Linked DNA regions of Homo sapiens: region 1 is linked to region 2. Evidence: fine-mapped expression QTL. A gene starts in region 2. The other region holds a variant in brackets. All regions are shown on one strand. Distances are from middle to middle. Region 1 overlaps GALNT13 (polypeptide N-acetylgalactosaminyltransferase 13). Region 2 holds the start of GALNT13 (polypeptide N-acetylgalactosaminyltransferase 13).

What was found. PIP is the estimated chance that this variant, and not a neighbour inherited with it, causes the effect.
Region 1: its variant is the best candidate, but not a certain one, in a credible set for the expression of GALNT13 in nucleus accumbens (GTEx, PIP 0.89).

What each region holds. Positions count from the first base shown.
Region 1 is chr2:154,311,980-154,317,363 of GRCh38, forward strand. All of the region lies in intron 9 of GALNT13 (polypeptide N-acetylgalactosaminyltransferase 13), which reads left to right. Among named protein-coding and RNA genes, the nearest start is that of GALNT13-AS1, 140 kb to the right of the region's middle. The variant G/T (reference allele first, on the strand shown) is at 2,366.
Region 2 is chr2:153,869,365-153,874,748 of GRCh38, forward strand. It overlaps GALNT13 (polypeptide N-acetylgalactosaminyltransferase 13), which reads left to right and starts at 2,558. Exons shown (of 13, transcript NM_052917.4): 1 at 2,558-2,939.

The DNA of each region.
Region 1 (5,384 bases), 440 kb after region 2:
CATTTCATATTGCTCAAACACACATGCTGTACAATTTGTGTAGTTAACGCAATTATTACAGGGTCCTGAGACGATATACATCCTTCTCGGCTGACAGGATTAAGAGATTAAAGCAAAGACAGGCATAGGAAATCACAAGGGTATTGATTGGGGAAGTGATAAGTGTCCATGAAATCTTTACAATTTATGTTTAGAGATTGCAGTAAAGACAGGCATAAGAAATTACAAAAGTATTAATTTGGGGAACTAATAAATGTCCATAAAATCTTCGCAATCCACATTCTTCTGCCATGGCTTCAGCCGGTCCCTCCGTTTGGGGTCCCTGACTTCCCGCAACACAGATAATCTGTTTTTTTTCCCCAATTGCTGGTAGCAATGAACATCTTTTGCAATTTTCTAATGACATTGGGATTTCTTCTGTAAAGAAACTAGTCATCCTTTTTATTCGTATGCTTTGTTCATTTTGCCATTGAATATTTTTGCCTTACTTTTATCTATTCATAGATCTTCATGTATTCTGGTGATAAATTATTTGTCTGTTATATACATTGTCAAGGATTTTCTCTGAGGTTATTACATGTGTGTGGTAATTTGATCGATATACAAAAAGATATTTTAAAAGAATTTAACTGTTGAAGTAAAGTCTATCTTAGCCTTTATGGCTTTTTTGGTTTATACATTGTTAAAACAATCTCCCCCAAGTATAGCACATTTTATGTGCCCCAGAAATATTTGTTAAATGATTTAGGCTTGAGTTGAACAAAATTGATGTTTTGCTTGTTTGTTTGATTTTTAGTAAAGTCAGTGGTCTCTCCGGGCCATAACCATGAACAGAATACCAGAATCAGATATCTTTCCTTATGAAAAGGGGCTTTGTTTGTATACATGGAACAAAAATAAAATTATTAGCTTGACAGTTAAAATTAAAGTTTTAAGTAAATCTATTAATGTGATTATATTACAGTAATTCTTGAATTGTATCTTGAATTGTATTCATGAAATAGAACTAATAAGCAGACGGTATAAATATTATTTGTTGAATATTACAAAAATATTGAATTGAAGATGGGTAGACCATTGCATCCTCATCAACTTTGATTAGCATTTCAACAATTATTTTGAATAATTATGTTCTCAAAATAATTTTATCATAATGAAATCTGGATAGTTTCCAACTATTTCTAAAGTGAATAGAACTTAAGTTCTAGCATATATGTACACATATGTGTATACATACACACACACTATATATATATTTATGCATATGTATATATATATATACACACACACTAGAACTTAAGTTCTATTCACTTTAGAAATAGTTGGAAACTATCCAGATTTCATACATATACACACTATATATATATATTTATACATATATATACACTAGATATCTATATACACTATATTTATATATGTATATATACACCCAGTAGAGATATATATATATATATATATACACACACACACAATATATATATAAATACATATATTTAGATGGAGTCTCACTCTGACGCCAGGCTGGAGAGCAGTGGTGTGATCTCGGCTCACTACAACCTCCACCTCCCGGGTTCAAGCGATTCTCCTGCCTCAGCCTCCCAAGTAGCTGGGACTATAGGCATGCATCACCATGCCCAGCTAATTTTTGTATTTTTAGTAGAGATGGAGTTTCACCATGTTGGCCAGGATGATGTTGATTTCCTGACCTGGTGATCTGCCCACCTTGGCCTCCCAAAGTGCTGGGATTACAGGTGTGAGCCATCATGCCTGGACCTAGTATATGTTGATTCACAGAATAAGTACTACCTTCTAGGGTTCAGATACCATGATCATTTATATATCTTGCTTCTGATTCTCCTTCAAAGAAAACATGGATACCTCTAGTCTAATCATTTTTTTTTGTATATGCAACCAATACAATAGTCTGAAATTTTATATTAATAAATTCTACCCCAATTGGATTGGATGGGTCCTTATTACTTTCCATTACCCTAAACCTGCTGAATTAGTCAAGGTAGGAAATTACAAAATTTTTCAAATTGGTACAAATGATCAAGAACACTTATGAAAAATGCATGGATTTTTGGTCAGTAGTTGGCTGAGTTTTTGTTTGATGTAGGAGTACTACGTCTGAATTAAATATTATTCAAGTACATACGGAGGCTTTATTATAACTCCTTTCATCTTTCAACCTACTCTTCAGAGTACCTCAGTTTTACTAGTTAAATCTAAGGTAACTAAAATTGAATAGCTTAAAATTATATGAGTAATTACACTAAATTTCAATTCTAATTTCTTAACAAAATTGAAGAGATCACTCTGACACTTAGTAGCAGTCATTTATATAATGTTATTGGTGTAGGTG[G/T]TTACACATTGCAGATTTCTTATCTCTCATACTCTCAGCTAAGTCCCCCAAATTAGATACTCTGGTGGATTGCATTTGTTTGGATTTATACTCATTGTCTTAGTCTGATTGTGTTGCTATAAAGGAATACCTGATGATGAGTAATTTAAAAAGAAAAAAGGTTTATTTGGCTCACAGCTCTGCAGGCTGTACAAGAAGCATGGCATCAGAATCTGCCTGGCTTCTGATAAGGGGCTCAGGCTGCTTCCACTCACGGTGGAAGGTAAAGGGGAGCCAGCATGTTCAGAGATCTTGTAGGGAAAGAAAGGAAGCAAGAGTGAGGGAGATGGGAAGTGCCAGTTTCCTTTTAACAACTAGCTCTCAGGGAAACTAATTGAGTGAGAACTCAGTCATTACTGCAAGGATGGCACCAAGCCATTCATGAGGGACATACCTTCCTTCACTTCCCATTAGGCCCCTACTTCCAACATTGGGGATCATATTTCAGTATGAGGTTTGGAGTGTCAAATATCCAAACTATAGTACTCATCTTTGCCTGGATTCCAATGTTGAAACACACTCTTCTTTGCCTAAATTCCTATGTTATACTCATTTTTTGGCTATTTTAAATATAATTTGAGTTCACATCTGGAATGACCCAGCTACATATACTCTTAGGAAAGTGATGCAAGAATGGCTTAAAGAATTAAGAAACCCAGTCTTTTCTCTACCAAATAATAATATAAGATGGATAAATTTCTCAGATATGCTAAATTGTCCCTTTAAAATAGTCACTTATAAAAACAAAACAAACAAACAAACATACCACAAACTTTTTTACAGGACATTAAACTCTCAATGACAGATTATCTCAGGACCCTAATAATTTACATTCCCTTGGTAGCCGTTCTTCCTCAGGATATTAATACAAATTATCTAGAAAATAAAAATTCTATACTTATTAGATATCTTTATCAACTGGAATTATGAGTTTGAGAGCATTGCAGTAAATCTTCAATAGGGAAGAATGCTAGACAATGGATCCAAGCTGGGATGAAAAGTTGCATCAGGGAGGCAGGGCTAGGGCTTTAAAAACAGAAGGGGAAACAATTTCTGAAATAAGAAGTTTATTTAACAAATAAGCCTTCTGCCTGATTTTATCAGAAGCACTATTAATGTGGAATTCTTGATGCCTAAAGGCTGGTGCATAACTGCCTTGCTATGAAATATCTGGTGTGAAAGGTCTACTTAAGACACATACACACACGTATACATGATTCGTTAACACATCCTCAGTGTGGTAGGTACTAATTGTATATTAATTGCCTAAAAATGTTTATGTTTTAATTACAGGAAACATTCACCAAAATTAAATGATTGTTATATTTTACAAATTGATTTAACTGGAGTTTCAAAATAATGAAAGACTTATTGTTGGTTACTTCAGTTCAGCAAGTGAATTGTAAATTACATATAATATTTGCACACTGAATTAAGATATATTCTAAGCACTCAGGGACACTGATAAAATGTATCAAACCGGATCACAAGGTCAGGAGTTCCAGACCAGACTGACCAACATGGTCAAACCCTATCTCCACTAAAAATACAAAAATTAGCTGGGCGTGGTGGCACAAGCCTGTAATCCCAGCTACTCAGAAGGCTGAGGCAGTAGAATCGCTTGAACCCTGGAGGCAGGAGTTGCAGTGAGCTGAGATCGCGCCACTGCACTCCAGCCTGGGTGACAGAGTGAGATTCAGTCTCAAAAAAATTAAAAAAAAATTTAAAAATCAAACAGTTAAATGTTTATAATTTATATCGTTGAAAATAAGATAAATGAAGTTAGAATGATACTATTATTATTACTGAAAGGTGTTGTGTCAGAATTGTCATTAGTAAGTGAGCTGTATTATGCCATTTTAACTTTCTAATTGTTTTGTTTTATAAACTTTGCACATTCTTAGTGTAACATCTGTCGTTAACAAAAACAGAGCAATACATTTGAAAATTGTGATCAACTAGGAATTTTGTACAACTTAAAAATTTAGAAAATTCTGTCATTTTAGCATGATTTAATTATGTTTTCAACAAAAATTTTTTATTAAAATTAAGGAATATAGATTACAAGTTCCTAAGTTTTCAATTTTTCAAAGTGAACACAAAATCAAATATAACTAAATATAAAACTAGCTGTCTCAGTCCATTTTCTTTTGCTGTAACACAATACCCGAGAGTGGGTAAATTATAAAGAAATGAAGTTTATTTAGCTCAGGGTTATGGAGATTATGGGAAGTCCAAAAGCATAGTGTTGGCCTCTGTTGAGGGCCTTCTTGCTGCATCATAGCATGGCAGAGGGCAAGGGAATGCTCGTCAGCTCAGGTCTCTTTTCTTCTTCTTTTGCCCCAAGTCCCAGTGTGGGGGTCTTACCCTGATGACTTTATCTAATCATAGTTACCTCCCAAAGGCCCCCCTCCAATCAGCATATAAATTTGTGGATTAATTTTCCAACACATGAAATTTGGGTGACACATTTAACACATTCAGCCTTTGCCTATGTTATATAAACAACAGTGAAAGGAATGGAGCTTTGACTTGAAAATACAGGTGGGCCAGGTGCGGTGGCTGATGCCTGTAATCCCAGCACTTTGGGAGGCCAAGGCAGGCAGATCACTTGAGGTCAGGAATTCAAGAGCAGCCTGGCCAACATGGTGAAACCCCGACTCTACTAAAAATACAAAAGTTAGCTGGGCGTGGTGGTATGCACCTGTAGTCCCAGCTACTCAGGAGGCTGAGGCAGGAGAATCTCTTGAACCTGGGAGGCAGAGGTTGCAGTAAGCTGAGACTGTGCCACTGTACTCCAGCGTGAGTGACAAAGCGAGACATCTCAAAAAAAAAAAAAAAAGAAGAATGGTGTAGGGTTTTTACTAAAAGGAGCTCTTATGAGGAAGAGCTTAGACATTTGTACAGATTGAGAAGATAAGAAAATAGATACAATTTTAAATTCTAGATCAATAAGCTTTCCAGAAAATGTTGTATTTGG
Region 2 (5,384 bases):
TACACATTGCATTTAGTAGTCATGGTTTTTAAATCTCCATTAGTCTGGAATATTTCCTCAGCTTTTCTTTGACTTTCATCACAGTGACATTTTTGAAAAGTATAGGCAAGATATTGTGTAGAATTTTCCTTAATTTAAGGCTTTCTTTGCTTTCTCGTGATTGCATTCAATTATGCATTTTTTAATCTGGAATCCTAAATCAATAATGTTATGTACTTCTCAGTGCATCATATCATGAGGCTCATGATATCACTTGGTCCCATTATTGGTGACTTTAACCTTGGTCAGTTGGTTAAGGTGATGTTTACCAGATTTATCCACTACATGTAATTTATTATTCGTTTGTAATTAAGGATCTATAGTATATTATAAAAACAGCCTCAAGTTATTTTTGTGTATGCATTCTCCTTGAAATATGGCATTATAGTTTCTCCCATCAAGACATGGACTATATTATCTATGTTTGGGCCATGTAACTTCCATGGCTAATGAGACACCAGCAAATGTACGTCCACAGAATCTCAGAGTACTTCACATTGGAGCTTGCACTCCCTTGTTGCTTTTTGGAGCCCTGCAACTACGACTACTGCTAGCCTATTGAAGGATGATGGGCTAGATTAAACAAAAGACAAAACATTGCAGCTGAGTCCCACACCCTCAAGACTAATAAGTATGCCACACCAGACAAGTGAGTGAAGCCATCCTAGATCTCTAAACCAAACTGAGCTAGCCAGGGCAGAAACCAACCTGACAACCCACAGAGCTTTGAGAAATTACAGATGTTTATTGGTTGGGGCTAATAAGTTTTGGAATGGTGTGTTATGCACCAAAAGCCAATACTTTCTAGGGTGATACTTTGGGACTACGTAAATATCCAATTACCCAAATAAATTTTACCAAGTTTATGATTCTGCCTAAGTTAAATATTATCACAAAGACTGCAAAATGGAATTGCGCCTTTTTTTAAGAGATGAAACATGTAAGAATGGGGGCTTATTTGTCTTTGAAAAACATAGGACTAGTAAGTAGCTGTATCAGCATCAGAACCCCAATCTTTTACCTGGTCCACAGTTTTTCTCAGTATGCCATGTAGAGGTGAGTGACCTGATGTTAGGACTGGAATTCACTAGAGAGAGCAGTAGAGAGACATTCCAGAGTGTTATGAGTGGGACCCTGTGTACTCACACATGCACAGAAGCATCTCTGGTAAATGCTCCATAATTGACGGTAGGGCAGGATGGACAATGTAGGAGGAGACATTAATACAGTTATTAACATAGAAATTTAAATGATACTTGACTCACGAAAAGATATAAAGATAATATCTCTGGAAATTGCCTTTCATGAGTATAATCAAGAATGGCATTGACATACTAGATTATGATTAATAGTATCATATGTTTGTCAAACGTGGCTGTTTAATATTTTTATGTAGTCGTTATATCCTCCCCCAATTCTGCCAAAAACATCCTATAAGATGTGTGAAGTGACACTGTGAGAAGCAAGGACCCCTGTCAGCCCTTATTACAAACAAGACAACTGACACCCGAAGGGCCAAAACTAGCCAAGAGCCACAGTGAATAAATTGCCAAGCAGGCACTTGAACTCGGCAATCCCAATTTCCTAGAAAAGTTCCTCTCCCATGGCAGTGGGGGACAGGTCCCAAGTCTTTGAGACGCTAATAATGTCTGCGTCTTAGGTTTCTGCCTTGTGCCAGGCACTGTTCTAAAATCTTTACATGTATTTAAACTCAGTACCATGGGGGTATTGGTACAACACATTAACTGAGACATTCATACGTCCAGGTACTTCGGAGTGGGTGTGTGTTTAATATCATACCTACTTGCCTGAGAAAGGAATTCAAAGCCCCACTTTTTTCTTTACCTCTTCATAAAAATTTGAGAGCCACAAGGAAGCGCTCTGTGTTTCCAGTACTCTTACAGTGCGTTCGGTGGCAGTAGTCACCGCCAACCAGAACACTAGGATCCTGCCAGGGTGTAGATACTGTAACCAACAAGAGGCCAACCTCCGTCCTTTCTGCGGAGGGCGCCGAAGCGTCAAGTACCCCGCAGCATCTCTCGGCTGGAGAGCCGACGGCAAGGGTGGGGTTGCCGGCGCTTTCCCCGAGGGCAGTCTCTGATCCTCCAGCTCCCCTCTAAGAGGCTCCCTGGTGCATTGGGCGAACGCGGTGCACGCAGGCCGGCTTTGGCGTTGTGGGGCCCCAAAGCGGCCAGGGGTCGCGAGGCGCCCTCCGGCGAGAGGAGCTGACCCCAGGGTTGCTCTTGGGGGCCGTGCCTGCCAAGTATCGCGGGACTTGCGCACATCGCAGAAGCGCCAGCTCCAGAAGCAGCTGGAGCGCGCTCGGTGCGCACCGCCCCAGCCCGGGGAGGAGCGGGAGCAGGGAGGGAGGAGGGCTGGGGGTGCTGGTTACGTAAATGATACTAGCCCAGTGAGAGGCCTCCAGGCTGGGGCTACGAGAGGAGGAGGGACCACGCGAGGAGGAGGGACCGGGAGGCGGCGGGCTGGGGTGGGAGGGGGGCGGGGGCCGGGGAGAAGTGACCAGGCGGCGGCGGCTCTGCTGAGGTGACAACGTGCTAGCAGCCCTCGCTCGCTCTGGGCGCCTCCTCGGCCTCAGCGTCCGCTCTGGCCGCGCTCGAGGAGCCCTTCAGCCCGCCGCTGCGCTATGAAGGCCCCTCTCTGGGGCTGGCCGAGGCTGGAGCCGGCTCCCTCTGCTCGCGGGCAAGTGTGAAGAGAGAGGCGCGGGCGGGAGCCGGGGCTGCGCGCGGCGCTCGCGGGCCGGCGCGGGTTCCAGGTGAGCGCGGACTCGGCGAGCCCCGCACTCGGCGCGGCCGGCCGGCGCCTGCTGGGCTTGATCTGAGGCTGAATCCCGTGTGTGGACCGCCGTTCCCTCTTCGCGGGATCGTTGGCCAGGATAGCAGGTCTCCGTCTCTTTCTCGCTTCCCCTCTTTTCCTCTTGATTGTCTGGGACGAGCTCCCTCTGGGCTGCCAGAGTGCCGGGGCTAGGTGCCGCAAAGTCCCGCGGCGAGTGCCGGGGCGCGGAGCCGAGCGCCCCGGGCCGGTCCCAGGGCAAAGGCAGGGGCGCGGGCGGACCTGGCGACGCGGCCTCCCGGGAGCTCCGAGTGCGCTCGCTTGCGGGGCTGCAGGTGTTGCGGGAGGACCGCGTGGCGCGGAACTTTCTGCCGCCGCCCACCTTCTGCTCTGCTTTTCTGGCTACCCCGGTGAGTTGTTGGTGGCGGGGGGGGGGGGGGGAGCGGCTCTGGCCCCCTCTGCGTTCTGGTGACGTTCCTCCGCGGGGGTGGCTCGGCCTCCAAGCCCAGACAACTTTCTCGCACCAGCTGCAGGCAGCCCCGGCTGCGTTGCGGGCGTTTCTACTCGACCCGACACCAGGCGCTCCCTGGGTCTTGGGTGTCTTCCTCGACGGTTGCCTTCGTATAGTGCCCCCTTTGCCTCGCTTTTTCAGAGTCCTCTTGCCTCTCATTCTCGCCGTGTGTGTCTCTGCCTCTGTTTCTCTTTCTGAGCCTTGGTCCCCTCAGTCCACACTCTCCGGCCATGTATCTGTTTTTTTCTCTTATTCTGTTTCCCTCTTTCTTTCTTGGGATATCTGTGTCCCTGTTAATCTGTCTTTCCTTTTGTCTCTCCGTTTTGCAACATTTGTTCTCTTTCTGTGTCTGCTTCTCGCAGCTTATCTCTGTCTCCCTCTGTCATCTCTCTGCCCCGTCTTCCCGAACACCAGCCCCGCGATCCCGAAGCGCCTTGGTTAGGGGAGCAAGCCCTGGCGCATCTAATGGGTATCTCCAGGTGCAGAGATTTTCCTGCGGGGTCAGTGGGGACGCGGAGGAGACAGCCTGCCCTTGTCCAGGCTGTCGTGGACCTGAAGGAGGGGCGCAAGGGGTTAGAGTGGAGGGCACCGCAGCAGGCTCCCCTTGCCGGGTCCGAGGGCGCTGCGCTGCTGCGAACCTGAGCGCACTGAGGCTGCTACTCTGGACAGCGAAAGCTGCGCAAGCCCCTCCCGCATACCCGATTCTTTGACTATGGTTAGTTGAATTTCCAGGAGGAGAGTCTGCCTCCCCAACCTTTATAGCCAGCTGCAGAAGAACGGACAGTGAGCAGGCAAACATAGATGCTTTGGGGTTCAGGGAAACTAACCTCGAAAGGGTGGGAGCTTTCTTCAGGCAAAGGTGTTGCTAGCAGAGGAGAGGAGCTTTGGGGACTGAGGTATGCCTGCCTTAAACTACCATGCATTCATTGCTTAGGAAAGCGGTTTCCTTGGAGAGATCGTGGTCAGCCTTCCCTGAAACAACATAACAACATAGAGGTTTTATTCGCAAGGCTAAAGGCACTTGGCTGCCAAAGCCCCCTTGAAATTTCTGGTATCCTTGAATATTTTCAGCTTTATGTGAAAGCTGCCTTTCCTCAGAGTCTCAGTCCGTCTCTCTCTCTTTCTCTCTCTCTCTTTTTCTGTGTCTCTCTCTCTCGCTGTCTCCCTGTCTCTCTCTCTCTGTCTCGTTTGCGTTCATGCCCTCTAGTGTTAAAGAAACCTGCTGGTTCGAGAATATTGAAAAGTAAGGTCAACCTATTGGTTATTTACTTTTGGACCTCTCACCTTCCGGGATAATTCTCCTTGTATTACACGCATCCTTTCCTTTTCCTCAAAGAATGACTTTTGCATTACATTACTAATCTTTCTTTCCCCCCGCACCCCCCTCCCGCAATCTCTGTTTTTTTTTTTTTTTTCTTTCCCCACGTCTCCTGCAGAATAAGAACCTTCATATTGAAACCCTGTTCGTTTGATTTGGGAATTGGATAGGTCTGGAGAATTTGCGTAGCCTAAGGCAGACTTTGAACATTAAAAAGATGCATTTCTCTGCACTGTTTGCCATAAACCAGGATTTCACATCTCTCCTTTAGCCCCTATCCACCTTCAATTCCATGGAGAATTTTCCTGGCTGCTTCTGCTTGTTTAAATAAATGCTTTTATTTCACCATTTCTGTGATGCTTATCCCATTCCAGGGCTTAAGGTACTTGCTTAAGTAGGGGCACTGTGTCTCGGATCCGCTTTGGAGAGGAAGAATAGAAAGCTTTTCTAAAGGAATTATAGGGTACTGCTGGTATAGATTAATTCCAGTTCGGAAAGTCCTGAGTGGGAATGTGAGAATGGAGGCTGTCTCAGATATGTAGTCCCTAGGACAGTGTGGGGAAACTAGTAAGTGCTTAATAAAACTTGTTGGTTGATTGATTAGCATGCAGCGGATCATAGGCTTCCAAGTTACCAGGTATGCTAAGGAGCCTGCAGCTAAATTCCACCTCCCCGCTCCTTTTTTGGGAGGTTTCATTTAGATTTTTTATGAATGGTAATTGAGAA